Linked DNA regions of Homo sapiens: region 2 is linked to region 1. Evidence: fine-mapped expression QTL. A gene starts in region 1. The other region holds a variant in brackets. All regions are shown on one strand. Distances are from middle to middle.

What was found.
Region 2: its variant is fine-mapped to the expression of LINC02236 in blood mononuclear cells (TOPMed, PIP 0.90).

What each region holds. Positions count from the first base shown.
Region 1 is chr5:6,791,056-6,807,498 of GRCh38, reverse strand. LINC02236 (long intergenic non-protein coding RNA 2236) reads right to left here and starts at 11,619. Exons shown (of 2, transcript NR_146281.1): 1 at 11,154-11,619. RefSeq lists an enhancer at 3,232-3,732.
Region 2 is chr5:6,774,146-6,790,588 of GRCh38, reverse strand. It overlaps LOC102724943 (splicing factor 3A subunit 2), which reads right to left. Exons shown (of 5, transcript XR_007059141.1): 3 at 14,560-16,443; 4 at 13,431-13,539; 5 at 11,392-13,255. Among named protein-coding and RNA genes, the nearest start is that of LINC02236, 14 kb to the left of the region's middle. The variant A/G (reference allele first, on the strand shown) is at 4,149.

The DNA of each region.
Region 1 (16,443 bases):
AGGCCCACATTGACAAAAGTTTGTAGATGAAGTGCTTAAATTGAAGAAGCAAATCTGAGATGTTGCAAGCGACAATAATGATGTGAAATAAATGTAATCAAATATATTGGCAAAGTTTGTTATCTTTAGTCGTTAGGACAAGGAAGAGATAAATATGCCCAAAATATACAGAATTAATAAGATAGATCTTCACTATCCAATATGGTAGTTACTAGCCTCATGTGGCTATTTAAATTTAAATTTGAGTTAATTAAAATTAAATAAAATTATAAAATGTGTTCCTTTGTCACACTAGCCACATTTCAAGGGTTTAATAGCCCTTCGTGGCTACTATATTGACCAGCATAGCTATAGAACATTTCCATCATCACAGAAAGTTCCATAAGCCACCATCCCTAAGATAGAAAATATTAATAGGATGGCAATGTTTGTAGGGAAGATGACACCAGTGAATATGAGGGCACACAAAAGTTCTATCTTATTATCGAATAAATAAAAAATAGCAATTTTTTAAAATGTAGAAAGGTAAGCAAACAAAAATAATAAATTAGTATGGTAGAATGGATCCCATTATACCAGTAGTTACAGTAAATGTAAATGGGCTAAAGTCATAGTTAAAAGACAAAGATCAAAAGAAGGGTTTACATATTGTATACAAGAGACCCACTTAAAGCATAGGGGCATGCAAAAGCAGTTTGACAGCATTGGTTCAGCCATACGAAATTGCCATTTTTGTGGGACAAAAAAGGATGGATATTGCCAATTTTATATGGTTCAATGTTTCAAGAAATAAAAGACATAAATGGCTACCAACAGAAAGAAAGCTAATACAGCTGCATCAATACTAGACAAAAGAGATACTAAGACAAAATGAAGAGTTAGGGATAGAGATTATCATTACATTAATTTGAAAAGACTCAGTTTATTGAAATGACAAAAAGAAATTTTGTCAAATGTACGGACCTAAGAAAACACTCACAAGATGTAGCAAAAAGTGTTAAAACTGCAGAAAGAAGTTTGATAAATTCACCATCATATTGGATTACTATGACAATTATTGATACATCAATCAGACAAAAAATTCAGCAAGAATAGTTGAACAATACAATTGACAAGCTTTCCCTAATGGATGGATACAGAGTTCTATATTCAAAAGTTAAAGAACATCCATTTTTGTCAAGGGCACATTTATAACAATGAATTACATTTAATAACCGATCAAGAAAGTCCCAGTGTGCATCAAAGAACACCACTTAGGCTAGACAGCTCTATGTTTGCTTAGGCAGAGTCCTATAAACTCAAACACAAAGTCCTTGAGATCAAACCCAACCTCCACCCAAGAGGTGACTCTCCCAGAAACTTCCTTTAAAAGTTCTAAGAATGAAATCACTTCTCTGCCAAGGTACCACCTGCTAAGACTCAAGCCTCAATAGAGTGCTATATCTCCTTGAGTTCAATGACTCTTACTTCTATTTACTCACACAAATGAACAGAGTGTTGTACCAAGCAGTACAGTGACCAGTTAAAGCCTGATGGAACACGGTGTGAAGTGGGACTTTTCCTATTCTTTAAGAATTTTGGCTAAAGCCGCAGAACTTAGGACAGGTTGATGAGTGCATCATCATTCTAGAGAGAGAGGCATTGAACACTTTGTGACCCAACTTAATAAAAACATCACAGATCTAGCCTGCTAATTAGCATCAAGCTCCATCACACATCTCCAGCGTATGTAAGAGATGACCTGGAAATGTACAAAGTGTTGCAGTGAACTAGCAGAGAAACTGGTGGCCTAATTTGGAGCGACATGTCTTTCTTCTCCTCAAACTCGCCCTTTAAAAAGTCTGGGAGGCTCCCAGGGGATCACTCTAAGAGGCTGGGACTGCCAGCAAGTTTCCATGGGCTTCCCCCTGGCTGGAGTTTGGCCGGCAGAGCTACAGAAACTCCCAAGTCCATCTTGCTGTGCCCCCTTTGTAGACCACCGTGAGACAGCTCTCAGGGGAACCTGTCCATCTCAAAAAGGACAGACATCTCAAGTCCTCTGGAAAATTGAAGGATGTTTTAGGATTTCCAGATTCCTCAAGCTGAAGCACCCACATGACACGCAATCCTGTTTCTTGGTCGTTTTGACCACACCCTATTGCACGACTTGTCTGCACTGCTATGCACAAAGCTCTGCACTCTCTCACCCATCTGGTCAAGCGCCCCTCCTGGGAAGAGGACAGAGAAAGAAGGAGGACATTGAAACCATCATACATTGGAGGGCTGGCCTATGGCTTCCCACTCAGTATTCTGCTCTCTGTGTAAAGAACCCCATTCCTTCAACTGCTCCCTCTGCAAAATGGTTTCTAATCATTCACTATCCTGTCTACTCTTACTCCCTTTTGCCAACATCACTGTTCAAGTACATTGCCCTGAAATTGCAATAATTCCACTGCCAAGTGAGACGAATAAGGGAGAATAAACACCATTTCCTTTAAATGTTCTAAAACCCAGGATTTTTACTTACTCACTAATACAGCAAGTCTGAGATTCCTAAGGTCTCACATCATCACAGAGTTAGAGACCAAGTAATTTTAGCTGAGCCAGATCTCTTCCCCTCATACATCTGACTTTTTTCTGTTTGATAAGTTGGATAACTTATGAATATAGGGAAAATGTTGACAAAAGATTAAAAGTACAAATAGATTTGCATAATTTTTCCCCAAAAAATATAACTAAATCATAATAGTAATTAAAGTCTTGGCTTTCTTGTGTGTTTTTAATCCTTACCAATTTAAGTATTTTTCCAGAACAATTTCATTGTCTCCAAAAATAGTCCTTCACAAGACAAAAAAAATTAGCTAATAAATTCTTGCATGTAAAATGGCTCTGCATCTTATAAATATTTCACAAACATTTGCCAGTTTATTTGTTTTTCTAAATGGTTTCTTATTATTTCTTTGTTTAAAAGGTCCTGGGCCACGAATATATCATGTCCGGGGACTGCAAGATAACAAACGATTTTTTTTCTCTAATCACATTGTTCTTTACAATTTGATTTACTTCACTGTATAAATTCATTTTCTTGGCATGAGAACAGCTGTCTCATGGCTGTTGGGGGCAAAGCTGGAACTCTCAGGCAAACAGCCAGGCTCTCCCGTCTGGCCTGGTGTCACCACCATCCCTTAGGGCCTCTGCCTGAGACAACCCCCAACTGAAGGGCAAGCAACATCCCAGCCTTGTTTGTATCTGCAGGAGGATTCACAAGAGGGCTGACTCTTAGGAGGCTGAGATGACCATTTGCACTGGTGGATCCTCAGAGAGGGCATGGAGCAGCAGGGATGGGTCCTATGGAGGTGGAACAGGAAGCCAGGGTTCCGGCTCTTCCCAGCTTTGCCCACCAGCTGCAGCAGAGTGTCATCACAGTTGCTTTTGGTTTTCAATCCCCATCCCAGGACCTTACTGTGAGTCCAAGCTCCCGGCCCCTTCCTTTCTTTCCCTGTAGGTTCTCTCTGTGTTGCGCAGTTCTTGCAGTTATTTCAGGAAACTTGAAACCCCTAGCCTCTTAGTGAGCACACACACTCTCAGACCTTCAGCCCTTACGCTGTCACAATTTATAGTTAAGACCTATGTGGACCTGAAACCTTAACTGTCATCTGTGAAGTCCTCTTTGATACTGTTCCCTCACACTGGCAATGCTCTTGGGGGCACCCTAACACCTGGTTTTTCTAAAGTAACTCTAAGTTTAGCCACTATGGTGCCCTTCACTGCAAGGAAGACAGGGTCTCTATCACCAAATAGTGACAATCAAGTACATACGATAACGTTTATTTAAAGTGTAATATACTCTAAGTGTGTGTATTCGTTCAATTACACTAGTAGGAAATGTAGCAGCTAGCATTAGTGAGTACTCAGTGTACTCAAAGTGCTTTGTACACATTAATCAAATAAATGCAGTGACTTGTTTTATCCTCACAAAATGCACTGACATTGCTTTCAAGATCTAGTCCATTTTGCAGATGAGAAAAGTTAACTTGCCCTAGGTCCAGTGAGTGAAAGCAGATAACGGAGATTTGGGCCTAGGGAGGCTAGGTCCAGAGCCCATACTCATAACAAACACGTCACCCTCTCTAAACTGTACCACCCGTGAGTACAGTAACAGCTCATTCAGAACAACTAATATTCTCACGTGTTTCAGGAGCGCAAATGTAGGAGAACTCACTTCCAACTGAGGTAATCAGGGAATTTTAAGATGCGGGTTCAGTTACACCAAGACAAATATGACAGAAGTAGAGAAATAATTCCCATCTGAGGAGACTGTGCAAGCACAGAGGTAGCTTCCCAGCTGCCCTCCACCTAGTGCATCCCATTAGCACCCATCCTGACCTTTTTCTACTCTCTCAGGGGAATCGGAGCTTCCCTCATTTCCAAAACAGGAGCCACTTCACTGTACCTGCTGTAGCGACCACACACCATCAAATGGGACTTGTCCCACTCCAACTGTCTTCTTCTCCTCCATCCTAAAAGAAGCTTCTACTCTCTTCCTCTTCTCTTCACTGACCACCTTCCTGAAAATGATGAGTTACATGTTCTCCTGGATTACTTAAGTAATCAAACAAAGCTTTCATTTGCCTGTGACACAGGTAATGAGAGCAGCTCTTCTTGACGTATAATTGAAACAGAAAAACCCTTTTTAAATTTTTTTAACTGTTAAGTTCAGGGGTACAAGTGCAGGTTTGTTACGTAGGTAAACTTATGTCATGGGGGTTTGTTGTACAGATTATTTCCTTACCTAGGTATTAAGCCTAGTTCCCATTAGTTATTTGTCCTGATCCTCTCCCTCCTCCCACCCTCTGCCCTCCTCTGCTAGACCCCAGTGTGTGTTGTTCCTGCCATGTGTCCATGTGTTCTCATCATTTAGCTCCCACTTATAAGTGAGAAGATGCAGTATTTGGTTTTCTGTTCCTGCGTTAGTTTGCTAAGGATAATGGCCTCCAGCTCCAACCATGTCCTTACAAAGGACATGATCTCATTCTTTTTTATGGTTGCATAGTATTCCATGGTGTATATGTACCACATTTTCTTTATCCAGTCTATCAGTGGAACCCAGAATCAAAAGTGGCATATGCTGGTGCCTCAATGATCCACCTGAAGAGAGAAAAAAACTTAAAGGAAAAGAAAACTGATTGGATCAACATAGAAAGCTTGGGAAGACTTGCATCTGACTCCCTCTCTTCCTTCCCTAGCCTAATACTTAATCCCTCACCAATCTTAGTAAGTTACACACACCAAAAGCTCAAAACTCCCAGTTGAAGCCCTCCTTCACCTTCATGCCTTAAAAAAAAAAAAAGAAAAAAAAAAACTCCTAAATGCCAGGAGTTGTAGTAATCAAAGGACATGAGGACATGACCCTGATGGGATACTTTAGCCACACCATTACTTTACAATGGCATGGAGAATCTTTAAGAAATCATGCCCCAAATTTGTGCTATAAGTGTCCCAAAGTTTGAGAATTCCATTATAATTGCAATGAAGTTAGTTACACAGGTTCCATTGTTTTAAGGACTACTCAGCTTAAGGAGGAAACGTTCCAGCCTGTGGCCACTGAAGATGCCTCTGATGCAAAACGTTTAACATTTACAAGTAAAAGTTTTAAATCCCGAGTGATTCCATAGGGCAGCAGTCACCAGCCTTTTTGGCACCAGGGACCAGTTTCGTGGAAGATAATTTTCCATGGACTGTGGTCAGGGGTGATGGTTTCGGGATGATTCAAGTACATTACATTTATTGTGCACTTTATTTATATTATTATTACATTTAATATATAATGAAATAATTAGACAACTCACCATAATGTAGAATTCAGTGGGAACCCTGAGCTTGTTTTTCTGCAACTAGATGGTCCCATCTGGGGGTGATAGGAGGCAGTGACAGATCATCAGGCATTAGATTTTCATAAGGAGTCCACAGCCTAGATCCCCGGCATGCACAGTTCACAATAGGGTTCGAGCTCCTGTGAGAATCCAATGCTGCTGCTGATCAGACAGGAGGAGCTCAGGCGGGAATGTGACCAATGGGGAGTGGCCATAAAGACAGACGAAGCTTCGCTTACTCACCTGCCTCTCACCTCCTGCTGTGTGGCCCAGGTCCTAACAGACCACTGACCATACCAGACTGGTCCTTGGCCTGGGGTTTGGGGTTCCCTGCCATAGGGTACAGAGTGTACTGATGTCAAATCAAGTCAACAAACTATGAAAAAGAAAGTCAAAACATGTGCCCCAAACTTCCACTTCTAAGTAGTAGGTAACAGCCAATGCCCCTGATCTCAGGAACTAAGAAACAAAAGAATAAAAAATCATTTTCGAAGCATTGGAGAGATGTGGAATCAACAAAGAATAAATAAACTAAACTTTCAGAGAGAAAAGCCAGTAAGAGGGAGATGATGGTTGGCATCTGTTTTTCCCTGGAAACATCTTCCTGTACTGTTAAATAGAAGCCCAGTGATCAGATTTAGGTCAGGTAGAAGACGCCGCTAGAGGAAGGAAAACCAGAAAAGCTTTCAGTGGTGCCATAGGGCTAGGGTGACAAATCATATCTCAGGTGAGGGCCCTGCAATGCATAGCTGATTTTACCCACAAGACATTTGATTTTTTTTTTTTTTTTAGCTGAGTAGTCAGGGGAGTGGAGGCCTAAAGAGCTAGGCTAAAAGTTCCTGAAAGGCAAAGTAAAATTTCTGTCAATATTTGTGACTAGGAAACAAAAAACTTCCCAGGGAAGGAACCTGAAAAGAAATCCAGCACAAGATGAAAGCCTGTGAATTGACACCAGGATCTGCAGCCACTCTTTTGGGGGCACCAGACAAATGTGGGTATCAAGGCTCAGCCCCTGGCAAGAGGCTGCTGCTGCTGGAGACAGAAAACAAAGCAAAGACTTTAGTGTTTGTCAAGGACAAAATTAGCGGGTAGGGCATCCAACCCAAGCATTCTCTCCATCAAGACCTTTGCCAAATTCTGAAGGTGACGAGGTCAGGAGTGTGAGTGCTGAGCTTAAATTTCTCTAAGGCCAAGCTGAATCACCCACAATCATTCAGAACTCAGGATGCAAAGACTTTCCAAGCTCTCAGATAAAGCCCTGAGAACAGAGGTAGGTTGAGTCTGATCAAAACTACACCAATCCCTAATGGTTGGCCCTTGGGAATCAACCTCCTCTGCCTTAGAGAGGAGACACAAAACACTTTCATGTGGAAAAGAACATCATTGGAACCTCTACAGTCTTTTATACAAAATATTCAGCTTACAAGAAATTATTAGATCTGTGAAAAGATAAGACCATAGGCTCAATGTGCTTTAATGTTTTTAAAAGCAAACAACAGAATTAGGTTCACAAGTGACCCAAATTCTAGATACAATAGACAATTATTTTAAAATAATTATGATTAATATATTCAAGAAAATAGAGGAAATGAGAGGCAATATAAATAGAATAATGGCAATTTGCAATTAAGAATTAGAATTATTTTTTAAATAAACTATAGAACTAAAATCATAATATCCAAAATTAAGAATGCAATGAATAGTTTTAACAGTAGATTGGACATAAAACTGGTGAACTGGAAAGCAATGCAATAGAAAAATACCCAAACTGAAGGAAAGAAACTAAAAAGAAAAAAATGATTTTAAGAAATTAAGAGAAATAAGGGATATATTCAAAATGTCTAAACAATATATAATTGCATTACCAGGGAGGAGAGAGAATGAGAAGCAATATTCAAAGAGATAATGACTAAAAACATTCCAAACTGATGAAAGACATCAACCCACACATTCAAGAAATTCAGCAAACTTCAAGCAAGATAAATATAAAGAAAATCACACCTAGATACATCATCGATGTCAGCTTTCTAAAAATCAAGGACAAGAAGAAAATATTAAAATCAGCCAAACAAACAACACATTTCTTTGGAATGAGAAAAAAAAGAAAAAAATTAATAGCTGACTTCTCAAAAGAAATCTTAGAAGCAGATAACAAGCCAGGCATGGTGGCTCATGCCTGTAATCCCAGCACTTTGGGAGGGCAAGACGGGCAGATCACTTGAGGTCAGGAGTTCAAGACCAGCCTGGCCAACATAGTGAAACACCAAAACCCCGTCTCTACTAAAAATACAAAAATTAGCCGGGCATGGTGGCAGATGCCTGTAATCCCAGCTACTCAGGAGGCTGAGGCAGAAGAGTTGCTTGAACCTTGGAGGCGGAGGCTGCAGTGAACCGTGATCGCATCAGTGCATTCCAGCCTGGGCGAAAGAGCAAGACTCCATCAAAAAAAGGAGAAGGAAGGGGATGGGGAGTAGGAGGGGAAATCATGGAAACAGAAGATGGGAAATTTGTAACCTTATATGCTTTATTAAAGCAAAAGGAAGAAAATTACAAACAAAGAACAGAGCAGAATTTCAGTAAATTTTTTTAAAAATCTTTAAAAATCAACAAGGTCAAAAGTTATGCTTTGAAATGATAAATCTTTAGGAAAATTGAACAAGAATAAAACACTAACTACCTAATAAGAAAGAAAAAATGAACTATAACTACAGATCCTACAAACATTAACAAGATAGAAGAATATTATGAACAAATTTACTCCAGAAGATGTGGCTATCTGGATTACATCAATAAATTCCTCAAATACAATTTACCAATTCTAACAGAAGAATAGAAAATGTGAATAGTCTGATATATATTAAAGAAATTATTATATAATTTACAATAATTAATTTATTATTCAGTTTTTTCAGTAGATTATTATTGAATTTATTATTAATATTTCCACACAAAAAAACCCAGGCACAGGTGGATTTTTCATTTCACAGGAACAAATAACAAGTAATATATTAGACTATTAAAAGACTATAAGGAGAGGAAATATTTCCCAACTTTTATGGATGAATCTCTCTCAGAACATATACTCAAAAATTATTTTAAAATATTAGCATAGTAAGTTCAGTGATATATACAAAAGATACCATATTATGAAGAAATAGGGTTTATTTCAGGACTGGAAGAACAGTTTTGCTTTTAAAGGCAATCAGTCTAATTCATGACATCATCAGGAAAAAAACTGGGGAAAAATCATGCTTTCATGTTAATGCAAAACATTAGACAGAATTCAACACTCATTCATGATTTTTTATAAAAACTCAAACTAGCAATATGGACAATATATATGGAGATTCTTTGGGGAAAATGGCAAAGATCTATTTCTTGATATGAGTTATCATTGCAAGGGCTTCCATCTTGAAATAATTCGCTAAGCTATACATTTATTATGAGTGGGATTTTTCTGTGTCTATGATTTATTTTACAATAAAATGTAAATAAAAAGGGAAGAAGTTGGAGAAGTTAGTAAGATAACCTGAATATCATGAATCCCATTAAGAACTTATTTTTTTCAAACTGTGATGAGTGTCTGCACCTGTGTTCACAACTGGAAATTCATTATGTCTCACATCATCTTTAAATTTAAGTGAAGCAACACTATGCAGTCTTACTCCATAAAAATGACTTATTATCTTTAGATGATTCATTTACAGGTTTAGTAAGGGAAAAATGTGTGACATCCTTCAATTTCATGGCTAGAATGCTGAACAAATAGGATTCCAACATCATAAATTTATTTTACCCATCACAATGCAGTTATATATTATCTTTAATGTTCTCACGGGCCTTGCAATTTTTTGATAGGAGAGTTTGCAATTATTTGAAGAGATGCAAACAAAGAAGGACTGAGGGAAGGAAGGTGTGTGGAGTGTATTTGGGGTGTGTATGTATAACGTGATTGTGTTTATTTCTAGGTGATCTGTGTTATTATGTATGTGAGTGTGTGTAATATGCATTTGGTGTGTGTGAGGGATGTCTGTGCATATTTGTGTATATCTGTGTGTTGTGTATGTATGTGTGGTGTGTGTGTATTGTGTGGCACATGTGGCATTGTGTTTCATTGTATTGTAGTGTATTACGTGGTGTGTGTAGTGTGTGTATTCTTTGGTGTATATGTGGTATATGTCTGTGTTGCACTGTATGTGTGTTATATGTGCACTGTGCAGTAAGTGAAAGGTGTTTGTGTGTGTATTGTGTGCGTGATATGGTTAGAAGACTATACATTCATTAACAGAGTTATTTTGAAAAACTCGTAATCCATCCAGGAAAGGGCTACCCAGAAGGTTGAGTCTAGAAATCCTACCATGAAGGAATAGAAAGAGCAGGGAAAGATAAACTTGAATAGGAGACAATTTAGAAAATGAAAGTGAGATTTTTTTTAATTGGCTGAAAATGTCCAAAAAGGAACTCATGAAAAGGGACAAGGCTCTCTGTGTGGATACAGAAGGCAGAACGGAAGCTTGTTATTTGAAATGCAATTAGACATCTAAAAAAATGCAATTTACTCCTTGCTGAGTGGAGAATTTTCTGTCACAGTGGGTGTGCAAGTAGAGATGAAATGCAGAGCTATCGGGGTTGGGCCAGATAACCTCAAGATGCTCTCAACTGCGAAAGGGTTAGAAAGAAGAATAAAGAGTGTGCTAGACCATGCCCAGCCCTAGCCATCCCCATGCCATCCCTGGCAGGTGCTCAACAGAACCATGCTCTTGGGAGGCACAGTGAGATTATTGGTGGCTGCTCCTTGGATGGTTCCCAATGAACTCAACGCTGAGGGAATCCACTCCAATACCCTCTCCTTGAACTGGAGAGCTATTACTCAGATCAAGATACAGGCAATCTCAGAATTAAAATCTAAGCGAAGAGGAAGGGTCGTAGATCGAGATCATCAGAAGCCAACACCATGGGGTACAGCATTGCCCATTCAATGGGTGGTAATGGAAGCAATGAGAAGTGTGGGGAGCAGAAGAAAATTTAGCTCTGCTCTTGCTTCTAACAATGTTCCACACATTTCCTGTGTTAAACAAGTAACTCAGCTTAGCTTATGGAGTCAAGGCCCATCCACTTTTCCCAACACAGCCACAAGCCCGGAGAAATCTAGAAAATAATACAGTCATTAGCTTTAACTACGGGCTTTCAAAATTTATCTGTAAACACGCATGCTATTTTTTCAAAAGGCAGGATTTGGCCTGAGCAACAAGCACAATTGAGAGTCTGTGGAGTCACCTTTGTGTATTATGGAATACACACCCATAATCCATGCAGTTTTTAGCAGTGGAATCTATCTTCTGCTTCCATCCCATGTTACACATCACTTCTGGCTCCATCCCATTCATCTTCTAGGACATGAGGGCTGGGAATGAGACTTGGCAATGCCACAGTTGCTCCTGCCTGGTACGAATTAATTTTTAGGTAATTCAGTAGTGGCCAAGCATATCTTTACAACCATCCAGCTCAACTCAATGTGAATGCAATGATCATGCATTCTTCACACTGCATCAAAAACAAGCAGATGTCTCGTGGATCCATTCCCTGTACAATATTCCTAAATGTTCAAACCTGCATTTTAAAGGTCTGATGAAACAAATTCAAGTTAATATTACTTGCTAAAAATTAGAAATGAGAACAAGAATTTCCTAGCAGCTTTAAAATACCCCCAAACTGGAAACAATCCAAATGTGTATCAACAAGAGAAAGGATACATCTCCCGTGCAATGGAGTATGACACAGTATCTACGTCAGTTCAGGCTGCTATAGCAGAATATCATAGGCTGGACAGATTATATAACAAATATTTATTTCTCAGTTCTGGAGGCTGGGAAGTCCAAGATCAAGGTGCCAGCAGATTCATGTCTGAGGAGGGCTTCTCACCTGGTTTGGAGGTGGCCATCTTCTTGTATCCTCACATGGCAAAGAGAGAGAGAGCTCTGGTCTCTTCATCCCCTTGTAAGTGCACTAATCCCATTCATAAAGGCTCTGTTCTCATGACCTCCTGATACTATCACATGAGGATTTAGGCTTCAAGACATGAATTAGAGAGGAACACAAATATTCAGTCCATAGCACACAGCAACGAAAAAGAATGAACTCCTGATGGCTGCAACAACATGAATTAGTTTCAGCGGCATAGCTAAGTGAAGGAAGCCACACAGAAAAGAGCAGATGCTGGCCGGGCGCGGTGGCTCACACCTGTAATCCCAGCACTTTGGGAGGCCGAGGCAGGCAGATCACGAGGTCAGGAGATCGAGACCATCCTGGCTAACACGGTGAAACCCTGTCTCTACTAAAAATACAAAAAAAAAATTAGCTGGGCGTGGTGGTGGGCGCCTGTGGTCCCAGCTACTCAGGAGGCTGAGGCAGGAGAATGGTGTGAACCCAGGAGGCAGAGCTTGCAGTGAGCCGAGATCGCACCACTGCACTCCAGCCTGGACAACAGAGTGAGACTCCATCTCAAAAAAAAAAAAAAAAAAAAGAGCAGATGCTGTGTGATGCCATGTATGTCAAGTTCAAAACCAAGCAAAGCCAATCTATAGTGACAGGGTATATTAGTCCACTCTCAGGCTGCTATAAGGACATACCCAAGACTGGGTAATTTATAAAGCAAAGAGGTTTAATTGACTCACAGTTCTACAGGGCTGAGGAGGCCTCAGGAAATTCACAATCATGGTGGAAGGAGAAACAAACACATCCTTCTTCACAGGGCGACAGCAAGGAGAAGTGCCAAGCAAAAGCAGGAAAAGCTTCTTACAAAACTATCAGATCAACCGGGTGCAGTGGCTCATGCCTATAATCCCAGCACTTTGGGAGGTCGAGGTGGGCCGATCACTTGAGGTCAAGAGTTCGAGACCAGCCTGGCCAACGTGGTGAAGCTCCACCTCTACTAAAAGTACAAAAATTAGCCGGGTGTCATGGTGCACGCCTGTAGTCCCAGCTACTCGGGAGGCTGAGGCACAAGAATCGCTTGAACCTGGGAGGCAGAGGTTACAGTAAGCCGAGATCTTGCCACTGCACTCCAGCCTGGGTGACAGAGAGAGACTCCATCTCAAAAAAAGAAAATCATCAGATCTTGTGAGAACTTACTCATTATCACAAGAATAGCATGGGGGAACTGCCCCCATAATTCAATTACCTCCCACCAGGTCCCTCCCATGACATGTGAGGATTATAGGAAATATAAGATGAGATTTGGGTGGGGACACAACCAAACCATATCAGAGGGGTCAGGGTAAACATTATTCTGAGGGGCAGGGGATAGTGACTGAAAAGAACTCCAAAGAGGTGTTCTGAGGTCTGGCAATATCCTGTGTCTTGCTCTAGCTGGTGGTTAGTTACATGGATGCATTTAGCATGTGAAAATTCATGGGGCTGTACATTTGATAAATAGGCCCATGGAAAACAATCAGTAAATGAGCTCAATAGGAATTTATAAATCTCCCTGTAGGAGGATGCTAATGTAACACAGCCAAAATTATAATGCCATTTTGGGGAAGCTTTTGTGGCCTCAAACACCATTAGGAAACCCACAGGCAATGGGAAGACACTTGGCTCAAGGCACTGGAATACCAGAATCATGACCCTTTTTGGGACTAGAAGATCTTGGAAATCATATACGCCAAGCCCCTCAGTTTACAGATCTGGAAATGAGGCTCCCAAGCTTCCGCTGTTGCAAATATCGTCTGGAAGACAATGCCTCCAATCAATGGAGCTCAGCCCTGGCTGCACGGCAAAACCTCCTGGAGAGCTTTAAAACATATTGATACCCAGGCTCACCCCCAGCCTAATTAATTTATAATCTCTGGAAATGAGGCTCCACATCAATAGTTCTACCAGCTCCCCAGGTGAGTCTAATGACTGCATCAAATCATTACAGCACCCATATCTTGCTTAAATTTGTTTCAGATTACTCCGCCAGACCCCTTGCAAAGCCTGAAGCAATGGGCCCAGGAGTGGTGAGTTTTGTTCAGCACAGAGGGGATGTGGGAGGAGGAGAAGCCCAAAGAGAGGCTCAGTGAGGGTGAGGGGGCCGCACCACCCACTCCCCCCACCTTGCCTGCAGTTGCCAACACCACCTGCCTCGGAGCTGGGGAGAAATGCTCTTCCGTTCTCTTTACAAGATTTCCTGTCACTTCCTCCCAGCTCACATTCAGTGGTGCCAGTTGCATAACCCAAGGAGCTGTTTTCTTAAAGTTCAAAGTCAGAATGGATCTGGCACAGCAAGAAATTCAGGATAAATTTAGTCAAGATCTCCGTTCTGGCAGCAGAGGCACGGCTTTGACTCAGCTGCGCCATGAGTCCCGATGCACAGGCTGGAGGTGCACACCCAGATCTTCAACTGCAGCCACAAATAATGTCAGGTAGCGTCTGGGCCTTTCCCGCCACTCCCAGGAAGTCATTATGCCCCATCTTCGGTTTCCTCTACCTATAGGAAGAGCTCGACAACAATGCATTTGCCGCTCTCACAGGTGTGGACCTCCCTAGTGGGATCTGTCCAAGCAGGATCCGGGAGGCAGCTGTCAAGTTAGGAAATGAGATTCCTTGGAGGCGGGCAGGTGACACAAAGTAAGTGCCTACCAGTTACAGAACACTCAGCACTTTACAGGCACGCCTTGTTTAGTCCTTGCACATCACACGTGCAAGCCATTTGCTAATATTTTACCATCTAGAGACTAAAGGCTCGGCCCCATTGAGCAATCTCACAGGTTAGAGAGAGCATCTGGGTTTGGATACAGGTGTTTCGGATTCCAGAGACCACGTGTGTTATTAACTACTCTGCTGCTTTCTAGATAGTCTTTCATTAAAATCATAAAAGATGGAAAACTAAATAAAATACAGCTGTGTTTTGCTCATTCACCCTTTCCTTTTTTCAGCCATCTTTCAGTGAGGACCCGCCAGGTGTGAAGCACTAAATTGTTGGGGTTTGTGAGAGCTCATCACACTCACTTTTACCCCCGGCCAGTTTGGAACTGAGAAAAAGCTGCTGGAGTCAGATGGATAAAGATGGAAGATCCCAGCCACGGTACTGGAAATGCAGAGTGAGAGAAGACGGCTCAGGCAAGGGAGCAAAGGGGCAGCTCATCCCCTTCTCGGAAACAACTGACCCCCAAATCTGCAAGCCCATCCACTGGGAAAGCATCTGTCCTGTGAAAGTTCTCAGAATCCAAACAGAGTCACTGATGTTAAGAAAACTCTCACAAATAGAGCCAGGGAAGCCATGAACAGCGGGTTCTAAAACCATATGCCTGATAACAAACAAACAAAAAAACAAAAACCCCCAAAAAATCACAACCTTGCTCAAAGACCATTGCAACCTTATGCAAAAACAAACAAACAAACAAAAAAAACACTTCTGCAAGGACATCTGTCCAGCAGCTGCCTGTCCAACCTCAGACTGCTATCACCCTTGCTGTTGATCTTTGTAGCCAAGCATAATTATATCAAAAGAAGTAATCCTCTTCATTTTTTTCCCTCAAAAAACCTTTGCCTTCCTTTCTCTCCCTGAATACAGGCATAGTTTACTAAAATGTGCATATTCCCATTGCAATGCTCTCTTCCCAGATAATCATCTTTGCTTTCAGAGAGCCTCTCTCTGTTTTATGTAGGTGGACGACCCTTACCTCATAGAAGAACAAGCAGATGGAGCAGGTTGCACCTGATCCATGCACGTTTCCTGCAGTTCCATGTCCCTGAGATATCTAGAATAGGCGAATTCCGAGATTGAAAGTAGATTAGAGGTTTCCAGGGACTGGGGAGAGGCAGCTGAAAGGGATTATTTAATGAGTTCAGAATTTCCATTTGGGATGATTAAAAAGTTTTGGAAATACTAATGATGGGTACACAATATTATGAAGGTCGTTATTGCTAATAAATTTGTACACCTAAAAAATAATTAAAATGGAAAATTTTATTTTACGTGCATCTTCCCACACAAAAAAAAGAAATTCCAAATAGACTTCTGTTGATACTCCTTCTCCCCTCCAGCAACCATCCTATGTCCTTGAAAACAGTTACTAGGTCTCAACGCCAGAAATTCATTCCTCCCCTCCTCTTTTCTTTTGAACCAACTTCAAGCAGCCTTTCCTTCTGCTGCTGCACCCACCTGGAGGAGGTGATGGGAAAGCGTGGCCAGGGCTGCAGAGAGAAGGAGAGAAGTGGGGCAGTGAGGCGTGAACACCTCGCTGCTGTGAGAGCGGCAGGAAACATAGGCACAATCTAGACAGGGGTGCAGGGGCCAGGGAGGGTTGTTGGTTTTGCAATAAAAGACATGACAGCACGTGTGTGTGCTCCCGGGAAGGATCCAGAGGAGGGGATGAATGAGGCTGTGGGGACGCGAGAAGCAGCTGCAGGTGAGACCAGCACTTCCCCTAAGGGAGGGGAGGGATGAGGCACCACACCCGGCGGCTGGTGCGTTTGGCCCTGGAGCTGCAGGGATTTTATTTTGATTGCTGCTCCTCTCTTTGCAGCAGAGTTATCAGAGCAGGGAGAGGAGATGGGGTTGTGGTTGCAGAGGTCCAGGGAGAAGGCTGGAAATAGCCATTGCTGA
Region 2 (16,443 bases), 17 kb after region 1:
CTCCTGCATACGAACAGCTCACCACACCATATTCCCCATAGCCAACTTTGATCTTTTTCTTTCTCCCTGAACATTTGTCCCCCTGTGTCCACAGCTTCCACTATTACCAAGCGAGGCTGTAGCCCTGGACCTCTGCCCCAGCTCAGACCATGCTCCTGCTTCCCCTGGGAACACACACCCAGCTCTCCCACACTCAGCATAACCAAAACCATTCATTATGTCCCCAGAAAACTTGAAACTTGTTCTTCCTAGAGATTCCTCACTATGATTACCGAACCTATCAACTTAATGGGTCTATCATATGTGCCCCCCACACACACACATGCAAACACACACGCGCACACACACGCACACATGATAAAGACTTCCCTAAGCAGAGACTGGCAAACGTTTTTCTATAAAAGGCCAGATAGTACATATGTTAAGCTTTGCAACCACATGGTCTCTCTGACATTGTATCTTGAAAACAGCATACAAAAAGTAATGAACACAGCTGAGTTCCAGGAACACTTTATAAAAACAGGCAACAGGTCAGATTTGGCCAACAGGCCATAGTTTACTAAGCCATGCCCTAAAATATACCAATGCTTAACAGTGGTTTATCTGTCAATGTCAGGATTCCAGGTAGTTTTGATACTCTGCTTTATAATTGTTCTGTATGTTCCAAGTGTGCTATAATGAACATGTACATTATATTTATAATCAGAAACAGGATTTAAGCTAATGTTGGAAATTAATGGCTGATATCGTGGTCAGCTGTACTGATTAAAGTTACTCCTCCAAACAGACAGCCGTCCTTGAAAAACCCCAAAACTGTTGTTAGTAGCCAGTAAGTGAACAGTTAATATTTGGCTTATTTGAAGCTCCAATGGAAAGATTTTTTTTCTTTCACACATTTTCTGTAATCAGTGCAGGCACCTGCATGTACGCACACACACAGTGATTTTCTTGAGGAAATGGATGAAATTCCTTTTTCCATTACATTTTCCTCAAATGACTTCCTTGTCTCACTGGCAGTATATAAGTCAAAGAAAAATTTACAATTATTTCTTACACTACAAACTTAGTGAGAATGGAAAAATGGGCTGAACCGAAATGTCTCTTCTCCTCCCACTTTGGTTTCTTGCACACAGTGTGATGAAATCCTGCAGACAGGCAGAACTGGGCATACAGTTCTCAGAAGGGCCGCTACTGAGGCCAGGAGAGTCAAATCCCCCCTCCAGCATTCTGCTCACACATAGATAAGAGGCAGTTTACTCTTTGTGTTGGATTTTTTGCTTTCACTTTCAACAAATTGATCCCTGCAATGTAACTGTTTTCAGATAAGAAGTTTAAGCAAATCCTTTCAAAAATAATAGGCATTTTCATTTAGAGAATTAAAATTCTAAAGGGGTTCAGGAGCTACATCCTGAGGCTCCCTCTAGGGGCGCCACTCCCTCCTCCGTGCGGCCTCCTGTGCGCCCGTATCAGTGCGGAATCCCTCTGGGCCAGGTTTCTCCGCTCTACCAACCTTTCCTGATGGGCTCTGAACGCATCACCCGCAGCAGGAGGTTAGGAAATCCTGAATTCGGCTGAATATCTAGAGCCCACCAACCACGTTCGATGTTCACTGAACACTGGCCCGTGATTTTTTGGAGCACCTCATCTTGGATAACTACAAATGTCGGGTTCATTGCTCTAGATCAAGGTCTCTCAACTTGGGCACCATTGAGTTTGGGGGCCAGAGAAAAATTGTATTTTGTTGGGGGTGGGGGCTGTGCTGTACATTGTAGGGTGTTTAGCAGCATTCCCAGGTTCCACCCTGGATGCCGGCAGCAGGCCCCCAGTTGTGACAACCAAAAATGTCTTTGGTACTACCAAGTGTTCCCCTACTGAGAACACTAAGTGTTGGTCACGCCTACATACCTGAGGGTATGACAGCTCTTGTATGTAGGAAGTGTATTTAGTAAGAAGGTCTCAGGGAAGCAACTGTTTCCCTGGGAGAGGTCAGTACAGCCTGAGCCATCGGCTTCCTTGGGAGCTCACCTAGTGGTAGGTGAGCACGTGTAGAAACGCTGGGCCATGGCGCACCTGTGAAGATGACCCTTCCTCCACCAGAGATTGAACTGGAGTGGCGATGGGGATCTTCACCATCCCTGTCCTCTCAGTCAACCCCTTGATTCTGATGGCTCAAATTCATAAGATCCCTGAGGCCAAACCAAGAGTAAACTGTGGTAAATGGGAAACCTGGGGCCAAGGTTGAACTGCTCAGGGTCTGTGGATTTTTTAAGTAGTTGCTAACATTTAAATATTAGAAAAGGTCACTTGAAAATCCAATCTGGCCACTCTTGCCTTGCATTCACATGTAGGAACAATGAACTGGAGCTGGGTCACCTCGGGCATGCCCTTTGCCACAGTCCCCACCCTGCCCTGCAGCCCCTGGGCAGGTTCCTCTCCTGCTTCGCTCATTTACATCGGCTGCCTGAGGACACTGAGGTTGCAGCCCTGGTCTATGGCCTCATTTCACCATTTTTAATGTTGTGACACACGTTTTCTTTTAGTCAAATAAGAAAATAAGCAAACAGATTGCCCAGTGGAATTCAAGCTACAAAAGAAATTTAGAAGAAATATTTGTGTTGAGGACTACTTTACCCAACTGCCCAACTCCCAAACATGCTCAAAATATAAAATCCAGCTTAATGGTCCAGTGGCCAGTTGAGTGCCCTGCTGAGACCAGAACAGCAGGGAGGTCAGGAGACCCTGGCCATAGATTTACTTGGTGCTGACTGGCGTGTGACCTGGGACATGTCCTCTGTCTGCCCTGAGCTTAGCTTCCTCCTCTATCAAATAAAAGGGCTAGACTATAGGGACCCCAAGGATTTTTTTAGATTAAAAAAATTCCAATGATTCTCTAAATCATGGATCAGCAAGCTTTTCCTATAAAGGGTCAAAAGGGAAATATCTGAGGCTTTGCGAGCAACACAACTACTCAGCTCCACCACCGGAGTGAAAAGCAGCCACGAACAATATGCAAATGAATGAGCGTGGCTGTGTTCCGAGACTTTATCTTTATTCTCAAAAGCCAGAGGCCAGCTGGATATGGCACTCAGGCAACAGTCTGTGGACCCCTGCTCTAAGTTAAAACGTCCACAAATTTACATGTGATGAAATGGCATGTCATTTCTTTGTATATCCATGATAATTAAAAAGAAAAAACAATTTTAAGAAAAAAAATGGCATAAAACCATACACACACTGTATCAATGTTAGTTTCCTGGTTTTGACATTGCAGTGTAGTTATGTAAAATGTAATCATCACGAAAACTGAGTAAACGGCACAGGGTGCTTTTCCACAACTTCCTGTGAATTCATTATTTTTTTCAAAGTAAAAAGTTTAAAAAGTGGTCTATATTGAAAAAAATAAGTGAATCGCTTTCTGTGTGTGTGTGTGTGTGTGTGTTTTGGTTTTTTTGTTTTGTTTTGTTCTGTTGTTTTGTTTTGTTGAGATAGAGTCTTGTTCTGTTGCCCAGGCTGGAGTGCAATGGCGCAATCACAGCTCACTGCAGCCTTGACCTCCCAGGCTCACGTGATCCTCCCACCCCAGCCTTCCAAGTAGCTGGAACCACAGGCATGTGCCACCATGTCCAGCTAATTTTTGTAGTTTTAGTAGAGACAGGGTTTTGTCATGTTACCCAGGCTGGTCTGAAACTCCTGGGATCAAGTGATCCGCCCACCTCGGCCTCCCAGAGTGCTGGGGTTACAGGCGTAAGCCACCACACCTGGCCGTGAATCATTTTTTAATGTTAACTTTTGAGAATTTAGTTTAGCAAGACACAGGGTTCTTTTATTGCATTAATATGTCTAGCAGGCATATAGTGCTTATTTAAAGGTTTTCTGTTTAAACTCAGCCCAATCCTAGATACACTGATAAAATAAATTTTAGAGTCAGACAAGAAACCTCTTGTTCTCCCAGGATGTCTCCGAACGGATGGTCCTTCCGGGTGATGCTCTGGGGGAGTGGATGCTCTGTGGTGTTGCTGATCCATTTAGGCCAAAGTCTCCTCCTGGGTCTTCTGTCTCCTGTTACCCTCTTGACCAGTGGCATACCCACTCAGTAGCGGCCCTCCTGAGAACTAAGTCTCCACATTCTTTGATTAAGTAGATGCCAA[A/G]CTCAGGGAGCATGGGGGATTTCATTATAGCAGGAAGGACTTGAGTCAGAGGGCAGAGAGATGTGGTCAGAGGTGTCCCCTTCATCCACCCTAGCTATGCCACTGGAAGTGCGCAGGGCCATAGAGGGAGGGAGAGTGGCAGGACTGCGTGACCTGGGGGGATCTTTGACCTTGACACTTCATTGCTCCATGGCTGCAGGCAACCTTACAGCTGGCTCTTACTTTCTCGATTGTTCCAAAGCATCCGTCTCACTGCTCAGCCCCTTCTTTGCAGTGTTTTAAATCTGCTACTTTCCACCTGATGCAGGAATTTGAATTATCATCTGCAATTTATGCTGCAAACAAGGAATGATTTGTAACTCTCTTTACTTTTTTTAAGACCACAGCAAGTGGCAGGAAGCCACAGTGAAAACTCCCATGAGGCGTCTCCAGGAAAGACCAAGTGACCTTTGTGGGCATAACTGTGAGGCCCTTCAAACCTCACATTAGAGACACACACTCACAATACATGCCACAAGCACACTCACATACACCTTACACACTACATACACAACACACACACACACAGCCCACTACACGCACATTATACACACAATACACACCAGACACTACACATACACACACAACACACACACACATTACATACATACACACACAATATGCCACACACACATTCACACCCTGCATATACAATACACACCACACACATACATACACACCATACTACACACATGCACATATGCTGATACACACAATACATAGCACGCACCACACATAAACAACTACATACACAATACAAACCATACGTAACACACACATATACACAATACACACCATACTACACACATGCACACATGCTCATGCACACAATATAGAGCACACAGCACACATAAACACACTACAAACACAATACACACCACGCACACAACATACCTCACATATACACATCCACCCAACACACACACACACACACACACATCATGCTCCACCCTCATTCAGCCCTCCCCAGGGAGCCCATCCTCTCCCTTGGTCAAGGGTTGGAGGAGCAGCAGGTTAGGGCTTGCAAAGGGAAAAGGAAGTATAGGTCATGGGGGACCCCCGGCCTCCCTTCACCTGCTTGCCCCCACCAATCTGGTTTTCTAAGCTGCCCTATTTCTAAGCTGCCGTATCACAAGCCAGCTCACTTTCATGCAGCTGCTATGTAGGCAAATTGTACGTAGATTTCATTCCTTCTAACTTCATTCATGCTAAACACTGCACACACTGGGTGCTTTATTTCATCTTCCTGCCTTTACCACCACAAGTCAGATGGGCCAAGCAGTCATTCTTTGAAACAGAAGGGTTTCCCTGAATAATGTGTCGCACCTGTCTCATCTTTCAATTTACTATGTTAACTTAAGAACCCACTTGCAAATGGTCAAAGATAATGCACATTAAACCAGTATTTGCTACTTTTGAGTTACCTGGGATGCTTGTTAAAAATAAAGAGCTCTGAGCTTTGCCCCCAGACTCCAGCATCATAATCTTTAGGATCAAACGAGTGAAACCACGTTTTTAGAAAACATTCCAGGGGATTCTTAGCACTCAGAAGAGGTGGAGCAGCCCAGCCTTAAACCCTGACTCCGATGATTGCACGTCACGTCCATTGCATCTATTGCGATGCACGGGAGCTCGTCCCTCCCTAGCTTCCAGCTGTCCTGGGTCAGTAGATTTGCCCTCTCAGCCTGGCTCCCTCCTTCTCTAAAGGGACTGGCAACAGTGGACTGTCTTCCGCTTCTTAGCTCATCTGAAACCTTAGCCAGACACAGCCACCAACTTGAGTGCTTCCAGATTCCAGAAGAGCTGGAAGCAACAGCCCCAATGTGATCTCCATTCTGCCTCCACATTCCTCTTTTGGAGGAAACCTGGACCTCCCTGCTCACAGGGCCCTGGTTCTCTCCACTGCTCCCTCCTCCCCTGAGGCCCAGGTAGCCACAGCACAGTTGGCCAGCCTGGGGGAGCATTTCATTCCAGCTCTTTCCCAGGGACAAGCAATTTCTGGCTGCTTGTGCCATTCACTCTGCCACTTTGTGCAACACTCTTCACTGTATGGACACGCGTGATGTTCTGAGTTCAGACCGTGTATTAATCAGGATTCTCCAGAGAAACAGAATCAATAGGATATATTACATACATAGGAGGAAGAGAGTTTGAGAGAGAGAAAAATTTTTTATGGGAATTGGCTCATGTGATTCTGGGGGCCCAGAAGTCAGACTGTCTGCCATCTACAAGCCAGGGAACCAGGAAAGCTGGTGATGTGATTCAGTCTCTGAGTCCAAAGGCCTGAGAAGTGAGGTAGGGGAAAGGGAGGGAGCCAGGAGGTCTGATACCAGAGGGCAGGAGAAGATGGATGTTCCAGCTCCAGCAGAGAATGAACTCCCCCTTTCTCAGCCTTTTTTTCTACTTGGGCCCTCTGTGAATTGCACAATGCCTGCCCACATGGGGGAAGGGAATCTTCATTTGGCTACAGATTGCAATGCTAATCTCTTCCAGAAATACCCTTGCAGACACATCCAGAATACTGTCTTACCAGCTATCTGGGCATTCGTTGCCCCAGTCAGGTTAACATATAAAATGAACCACTGCGACTGCCTCTTAAAAATCTACACAACTGTCTTTAGAAAATAGCACTTAAACAAGGTGTCATATTTTAAACACTGGCTATGAACAGTGTGCTAGACAAGATATATACATATTTCTGTTTTTTGTTTTTTGTTTTTTTAAGACAGTCTCACTCTGTTGCCCAGGCTGGAGTGCAATGGCGTGATCTCGGCTCACTGCAACCTCTGCCTCCTGGGTTCAAGCAATTCTCCTGCCTCCCAAGTAGCTGGGATTACAGGCACCTGCCACCATGCCCGGCTAATTTTGTATTTTTAGTAGAGACAGGGTTTCACCATGTTGGTCAGGCTGGTCTCGAACTCCTGACCTCAGACAATCCACCCGCCTCGACCTCCCAAAGCACTGGGATTACAGGTGTGAGCCACAGCACCCAGCCAAGATCAATATCTTTAAAACCATTAACTTTCCTATGCATCCGAAAGAACCAATTAGAAATGCATAGAAAAATCTCATATATAATAAAAAAACTATAATAAACCGAGAAAGAAACTTAACAAGAAATGTTCAAGATTACAGAGAAAACTATAAAACCTTACTGACAAACTCATTTAAAAGACCTGACTATGTTGTGGGATTTATTGTATTCAAAAATGAAAAGATTCAGCAGTGCAAAGATTTTAATGGAACTAGACAAGCTGAGTCTCAGAGTAATATGGAAGAGGAACTATGTAACAATAGTCAGAACCTTTAAAGGAAAAGAATGAAGAGGGATGGTTGTGCACCCTACCAGACTTCCTAAAAGGTACAGGGACGTGCCAATTCAGGAAGGGGCGACACCATCCGTGGAGAGATAAAGCCTAGAAACTCATTTATTTGTTCATTCAAGAATAAATAACGATTGTTAAATTGACCCGCTACTATGGTTTTGGCATTGGAAGTTTGGCATTGGCAAGTTAAATCCCTACCAGTACAGCATTCATCAGAAAATATGTTTCACCTCAATTAAAGTCCTAAATACAAAAAAAAAAAAAAATGCCAATAAGGGAAAAAACATAAAAGAGAATGTTAAGGTAGAAAAGACATTCTAAATATGGTATAGGCTGGGTGTGGTGGCTCACGCCTGTAATCCCAGTACTTTGGAGGCCAAGGTAGGTGGATCACTTGAGGTCAGGAGTTCGAGACCAGCCTGACCAACATGGTGAAACCCTGTCTCTATTAAAAATACGAAAAAAATTAGCCAGGCGTGGTGGTGCATGCCTGTAATCTCAGCTACTTGGGAGGCTGAGGCAGGAGAATTGGTTGAACTCGGGAGGCAGAGGTTGCAGTGAGCCTAGATCTTGCCATGGCACTCCAGCCTGGGCAACAAGAGCGAAACTCCATCTGAAAATAAAATAAAATAAATAAAAATAAAATAAAATAAAATGTATAAAGGAAGAGAAGACATCTCAATTTGTCTACTTTGAAATTTAAATAACAAACAAAGCTTTAAGACATGGGACTACTCAGAGATAATACGTGTGATTTCTATCACAGGCAAGAGGCTAATTTCCATAGTAAATTAAGAACAGCAACAAATCCACATGGCAGATGTTCTTTCACCGCACCCAGGACTCCTGTGTTGGTGTAAACAGCTGGTGTCCATCCTATGGGGGCAGGTGTTTGGACATTTGAAGATCCAGTGCCCTCATGGTTGTCAAATATTTTGGATATTTTCTCTGAACATCAATAAGAAGAAGAATAGACAAACAGACAAAGACACTGAATAGGTAACTCATAATAAATGAAATTCTAATGACTAATAAACATGAGAAGACGTTTAGGTAATAATTAAGAAAATCAAACCCAAAACTAAATGATTCGCCCTGTCTCAGCCATCAGCATGGCTTGTAAGTATGGTGATGGTGTCGAATGTCTATTAGACATTGCCTCCAGGAGTGTGGAATGTGCCCAGCCCCTGTATGACTGTTCAGCATGTGTATTACACTCAACATGCATTCCCTTTGTCTTAGTCCCTTTTCTGTTACTTATGACAGAATACCTGAAACTGGGCTATTTATAAGAAAATAAATTTATTTCTTGCAGTTATGAAGGCTGAAGAATTCAAGGTCAAGGGGCCACATCTGGTGAGGAGCTTTCTTGCTGATGGAGAACTCTCTGCAGAGTCCTGAGTTGGCCCAGGAGACCACATGGCGAGGGGCTGGGAGTACAAGCTCAAGTTCTCTTCTTCTTATAACTCCATGATAATCTATTAGTTCATTAATCCATTAATCCATGAATGAATTATTCCAATCATCTCTTAAAGGTCCCACCTCTTAATACTGCCATTGTGGAAACTAAATTTCAACAGGAATTTGGGAGAGGATGAATATTCAAATCATAGCACCTTTTGATTCATAAATCTCACTCTTGGCCAGGCACAGTGGCTCATGCCTGTAATCGCAGCACTTTGGGAGGCTGAGGCAGGAGGATTGTTTGAGGCCAGGAGTTTGAGACCAGCCTGGGCAACATAGCAAAGATGCCATTCTATAAAAAATAAAAAAAGAATAGCCGGGCATGGTGGCATACGCCTGTGGTCCCAGCTACTGGGGAGGCTGAAGTGGGCAGATCACTTGAGCCCAGGAGGTTGAGGCTGCAGTGAGCTGTGATCATGCCACTGTGATCCAGTCTAGATGACAGAACGAGACCCTGTCTTAAAACAAAACGAAACAAAACAAAAAACAACAACAAAAAAAACACCGCCTCACATTTTTCATCTATCCCAATGGTTCTGAACAGGCGGGAAGGCCAATGTTTCCCCCAGTGGATATTTGACACCATGTGGGGACATTTTTGGTGGTGATAAGTAGTGCACACTACTGACACCTAGTGGGTGGAGGCCAGGGATGCTGCTAAGTGCTGCTAAGCGTTCTACAGTGCACAGGACAGCACCCCCAACACTAAATAATTATCTGGCCCAATATATGGACAGTGTCCAAGGTGGAGACCTGATTCTGAAGAAATCCTCACACATACACAAGAAGCCACAGCTAAGGATGGTCACTGAAGCACTGTTTGTGGTAGTAGAAACTGGAAACAATCTAAACGTCCATCAGTGATGAAAGAAGGAGCTACAGAAACAGATGCTGGCACACTGTAGAACTCCATAGCATTCGGGAGAGAAGGCACGCTACCCAGCCTTGGAAAGGTTCAGTAACTACAAACTCAGCCTTCCATGGGTAAGTTGTAATCAAACATCAGAATGCTTAAAATAGAGAAATTATACCAATGACTGCCCTCTAGTAGCCCAAAGGGGTGAACTTTCACCCTAAGGAGGACTCATCACCACTCCTACCACCCTCTGAAATGTTGATGCCCCCTTAAAGGGTCAGAATGGGCATCTTGCCCCCACACACCATGAATTGAGATTTCTAGACACTCTATTGGTTCACTTGAATGTAGAGTGACCTTTCTGCAGATGTATGCACTGACCACTAGGTCAGCGACGTCCATAGCGGCTCTGCCACAAGCCACAAGTACCTCAGAGCTGAGAGGAGGACCACGAGACCAGTTCTGAGGCCCCCTTCAGCTTCATCGGGCACAGATTCTTAAACCGTAGTCTGGAAAAGATTGTCGATTTAGAGAATAGATGTTACTGTGCTATTCTGCTCTTGCCCATTTTCATTAGCCCCAGCACCTGCAACCACAGTCCCTAGCCAGAATCCTGGGCAACACAGCAAGATGCCATCTGTACAAAAAATTTAAAAAAATAGCCAGGCATGGTGGCACGCATCTGTGGTCCCAGCTACTAAACCAGGGTTCCATAAAACAACCTTCTCTCAGGCCTTGGAGGGGGTGCCTCCGATCTGGCTATTAATGTCTTTATTAGTATCCAAGGACTTCTATAACAAAATACCACACTCTGAGTGGCTCAAAACAACACAAATTAATTCTCTCACAGTTCTGAAGGCCACAACTCCAAAGTCAAAGTGTCAGCAGGGTTGGATCCTTTTGGGGGCTCTAGTGGGAATCTGTTCCAGGCCCCTCCTCCAGCTCTGGTGATGGCTGGCAATACTTGGTGTTCCTTGGCTTGCAGACATACACATTGCTCCAAATCACTCCAATCTCTGCCTCCATCTTCACATAGCATTTCCCTCTGTGTTTCTCAGTACAAATTTCCCTTTTCATTAAAGAGATCATCTATTGAATTACACACCACTTTAATCCAATATGACCTCATCTTAACTTGATTGTGTCTGCAAAGACCCATTTCCAAATAAGGTCACAGTCACCGATTCTGGGGGTTAGGACTTCAATATCTTTTGAAGGGATGCAATTCAATCCTTAAGAGTCCTTGACCTGCACAACAGCTAAACTGAACTAGGAACCTGGCTAACAGGATGCAACATTACCAACCTGGTTCCCACCTCACAGATAAGAGGAGCTGCCCCAGCCATACCCAATGGGTTAATGTCGGGTTGATCAATGTCATTCAAATGGGGAGCCCATCAGTCTTAAGAGACAGGTGAAGACCAGCCCTAATGGTAGAATCTTCCTCTTAGCTCCATTCTCTGAGCCCAGAAGGATCCTGAAGAAACTGGAAGAGGCACAGGCTATGTTCTGTGTCTTAGTCCGTTTGGGCTGGTATAACAAAATACCACAGACTGAATGGCTTATCACATAACAGAAATTTATTCCTCAGAGTTCTGGAGGCTGGGAAGTTCAAGGTCAAGCTGCAGGCAGATTCAGTGTCTGGTAAGTGCCCATTTCCTGGTTCAGGGATGGGACCTTTCCACTGTGTCCTCATAAGGCAAAAGTGGCCAGGAGTCTCTCTCAGGCCTCTTTAAAACACTAATCCCATTCAAGGCCAGGCACGGGGGCTCACGCCTGTAATCTCAGCACTCTAGGAGGCTGAGGCGGGCAGATCATGAGGTCAAGAGATCAAGACCATCCTGGCCAACATGGTGAAACCCCATCTCTACTAAAAATACAAAAATTAGCTGGGCATGGTGGCACGTGCCTGTAGTCCCAGCTACTCGGAAGGCTGAGGCAGGAGATTCACTTGAACCTGGGAGGCGGAAGTTGCAGTGAGCCGAGATCGCGCCATTGCACTCCAGCCTGGTGACAGAGTGATACTCCATCTCAAAAACAACAACAACAACAAAAACACTAATCCCATTCATAAGGGCTCCACCCTCATGAGCTAACCACCTCCCAAAGGCTCCACTTCCAAACACACTGATATTGGGGATTAGGTTTCAACATACAAGTTTGGGGAAGACACAAGCATTCAGTCTGATCATTCTGTCCCAGCTTGAGACTGCAGCCAACAGGACAGCGTGATGGCACACTGAGCCACAGACCTCCATCTAAAAAGATGTCTAGGGAGCTCTAGCAGACACCAGGAGCAGCAGGTAACTCCAGGGCCCCAGGTTCCTGATTATCAGCCTGGGCTACTGCTCTGGTTCTCCTATCTGAGTAGCCAATCAGAGGAACAGGCCAGGCTTTTAGAATTGTCAACCAGCCCCATGCTCTGTCAGTGAGGCCAGCAACTCTCCTTCTGTTCCAGGCAGGCAGCTGAGTTAAGGAGTGTGAAGCCACTTTGGGGATAGGGACGGGGTCCCTCTATATAAGTATGGGAAGCTAATTGTCTTGGATGAGGACAAAGTCTTGACAACTTCCAATGGACAACATCCTTGGTGGACTTTCTTAGGTTGCCATGAGGACAGGATCAGCCCCAAAGTTGGGAAGCTGACTTAACTCAATCCTGTGGACTGAGCTGTCATCTAAGAAACTAGTTACGGCCGGGCGCGGTGGCTCACGCCTGTAATCCCAGCACTTTGGGAGGCCGAGGCAGGCAGATCATGAGGTCAGGAGATCGTGACCATCCTGGCCAACATGGTGAAACCCTGTCTCTACTAAAAAATAAAACATAAATTAGCTGGGTGTGGTGGCACATGCCTGTAGTCCCAGCTACTCGGGAAGCTGAGGCAGGAGAATCGCTTGAACCTGGGAGGCAGAGGTTGCAGTGAGCTGAGATTGCGCCACTGCACTCCAGCCCAGTGATAGAGCAAGACTCCATCTCAAGGAAAAAAAAAAAAAGAAAAGAAACTAGTTACAAATAAAGGCAACCATCCAGATCTTTCAAATGGAGCCCATTCGATGAGCTGTTGGTACTCCCCCCACCCTACACATGCATGGGAAGACTTCAAATAGTATCTCTTGTAAGTGACACCCTTAAGGGTTTAAAGCAGGGATTTAAGACAGGTTCACTGTGTTCGGGCCACCATCATCAGCTCAAAGGCATTTTCCTGCTAGTTTACAACATATGGTCTAAAATAGTGTTAAGTTGCTTACCTTCTTCCAAATGGCAGAATGGAGAAAGGAAGTGAATAAAAGTCAATGACAGACTTTCCCTCCAGCATCTTTTAACCCTGTCACGTCCTGAAGGGTCAGTGCCTTCTGACTTTTATGGTTATGGTCCATCTCAGGTGGATGGGCACAGGCGAAGAAAAGGCACACCTGAGCTGCATCTGCACCAGAGAAAGCAGAGGGATGAAGGGCTCAGGATGGATTTCATCCTTCACACCCTAGTTGGGCCAAATCAGGAGTCTGTGTCATGTTTCAGAGCAATTTTCCTAGCTTGTCTGTGTAAGAATCATTTTGGCAAACAGCACAGATTTTTTACCTCCTAATTTAAAAAAATACCTAAAGAATGGTTTGATGCATTATTTCCCATGATCACTTGAGCAACCCTCGGAGCAATTCTCTCAGCAGAATCCTTGTCCTTCACACTGTGCATTTCATCTGCTGTTTCCTGTGGAGGAAAAGAATTTTTCATCCAAAGCAGCAGAAAGCGCTTTGTCCAAGTTACAGCCTCAGGAGTAAAATGAAGGGTACCCGGCGATGCCATGGGATGACAGAATACAACTGCCTTTGATCCCAGCACTGTTGCCGTGTGCCCAATTTGTATAATGAGCCAGGGCCTCTCAATAGTAAAGATTAGTGGAAGCAGACAGCTCTGCCAGCTTCCTGATGCTCTCCTGCTGCCTTTTTCTCCAGGGAGGATGTTTCCTCACCTGCCTGTGGGCACCTCCCACCATCTCTGAAACACGCGAGAGCATGAACTCTCACTGTGGTGCCAACAAGCACTATCACCACAGATCAGCATGACCGCTAACCACCTGAACACAGTGCACCACCGAGGCCACCGACGCTGCTGCCCAGAATTCAAAAAAATGTACTCAGGGCCTCCAGCCTCCCTGGTTTGTTTTCACATACAAGAAGCTGGGACAGAGGGAGAAGGATGGAGCCGCATCCTCTGAACTCTGTCAAGGAGGCCAGCAATGGCAGGGGAGCTGAACTGAGGAGTAACGAGTCCCAAGTTGAGGGAGCCCCACCTTAAAGGGGCCAGGGTTCCCTCTAAGTATGAGTATGGGAAACCAATTGTCTTGGATGAAGACACAGTTCTGACAACTCCCAGTGGAAAGAGTCCTGGATCGGGTTTCTTGGATTGCCGTGGGGGATAGGGTTGGTCCCAAAGCTGGGAATTTGACTTAAAACCATCATGTGGATTGACTAACCACCTAAGACATGACACGGCAGCACGTCCAGGCGACCATCCAGATCCTTCTGAACGGAGCCCTCGCACTGGTTGTTGGTGCTGCCACTCTTTGTCTGGTGCTGTCCCTTTATCAACTTCTTTCTTAAACCAGTATTTTACCTTATAAGACATCAGTTCTTACGAGAGCTTTAGCTAGTGTTTAAAATAAATGTTCTTGGGGGTAATATCTAAAATACATAAGGAACTCAATGCAATAACAAGAAAAGCAATTACCTGATTTAAAAGTGGGTGAGGATCTGAACAGAGGGACTGCACAGGTGCTCCCGCCTACACCTGCTTTTGGAAGGAAAGGTCTTCCAGCCCCACAAAATGGAGGGCCTCAGTTTCCCCTGCGGGTGGCCTGCAGCGCCCCAGCCTCGTGAGCACCTGAGCCCCAGGTCCCGTGGAGAAAGGCGCGTCCCCCCCGGAGCTGAGCTGCAGCCCCCACACTGACGCCTCCCTCGTCCGCAGCTTCGCAGAGCCCTGGCGCGGCTTCCCCAGATCGCAGGTCATCAAGTGGTATTTCCTGTGCAGCTTAGCTACTCAACATTCGCCAGCATCCTGGTTTTCACTCAAGTTTTCCCTCTCGAGCAGTAAAGAAGGCAGTTCCAAACTTCTGCTTCTGTTCACAGATGGGGGAGCCCCCACCGTGAACTCCAAGTCTCAGCTTTATTTTTCCAAAAGCCATATTTTATGGCCAAGAACCTGAAAAGAGAATGGGACAATGAGGTTTGGTAAATTAAAATGGCTAAAGGTACTGGGCATGAGGCCACAGTCAGCCCCTGAAGTTCCTGGACCCCACCTGCTCATGGGAAGAATTCTAGCAACCGGGCTGACCACATGCTCACAATGACTATTCCCAGAAGCACGGGAGTCTTCAACTGATCATTCATCAGCTCACCTCTGTCAACAAGGGCCCCTCTAGGTGAAGGGGCTGGGACCACCTTGCCACATCTCCTCATTTTGTCCTTAAAAAATCTGCTTGTAATCGCTGCAACTCAGAACACTCCTGAGGTAGCATCCTGGGGTTGGGGTCCCCAAATCTGGCCCAGATAAACTCTGCTGATAATAATGTTTTCTCAGTGTCCTTCTTTTTTTAGCTTGTCATCACTTTCTTTCACAACATCACTGCACGTGACCGGCTTTCCTTCAGCAACTCTTTCTTACAAGAAAACCTGATTCTCATCTCTGCTAGGCGGCACATCCTTTTGTGGGGAGCTGCGGGAAAAGCCACTGATGTGGCGGGGGCTGTGGGCAGGGACCAGCTCCATCACCAGATTCCAACCACGCTGCTGACCCCAGTGTCACGCAGGAAACTCCCCGAGTGCGGTGGACGACAGGGTGTGTCCTGAGCAGCCAACACCACACCACACCACAACACGCGTGTTAAACATACAAGGGAGAAGGGTCTGCTGTCCACATCACAGCACAAGATACAAAAGTCACACCAGTGATATGAATGAGGTGCAGAGACACCCCGGGCTCTTGGAGGAGTGGGCGCGAGAGCTGGGTCTCAAAGGAGGAACAAGGTGTTTTTTTTTCATTGGGATAAAATTCACCAGTTTAAAAGGTACAAGTCAGTGGTTTTTAGTATGTTCAATTCACCACCTTGTGTGACCATCACCACCATCTAATTCCAGAACCTTCTCCCTCTTCTCCCTGCCTCACGCCCCACCCCACCCACCCCTCAGAACCACTCGTCTGTTTATGTCTCTGTGGATTCTGTATCAGGGAAATGAAAATAAAAACCACAGTGAGATCCACTTCACACCCCCTGGGATGGCTGCAGTTGAAGGGTGGACCCGTGACCAGCGGCGGGGGGTGTGTGGGGGAGCGGCGGGGGGTGTGTGTGGGAGCGGCGGGGGGTGTGTGTGGGAGCGGCGGGGTGTGTGGGGGAGCGGCGGGGGGTGTGTGGGGGAGCGGCGGGGGGTGTGAGGGAGCGGCGGGGGGTGTGTGGGAGCGGCGGGGGTGTGTGTGGGAGCGGCGGGGGGTGTGTGTGGGAGCGGCGGGGGGTGTGTGTGGGAGCGGCGGGGGGTGTGTGTGGGAGCGGCGGGGGGTGTGTGTGGGAGCGGCGGGGGGTGTGTGTGGGAGCGGCGGGGGGTGTGTGTGGGAGCGGCG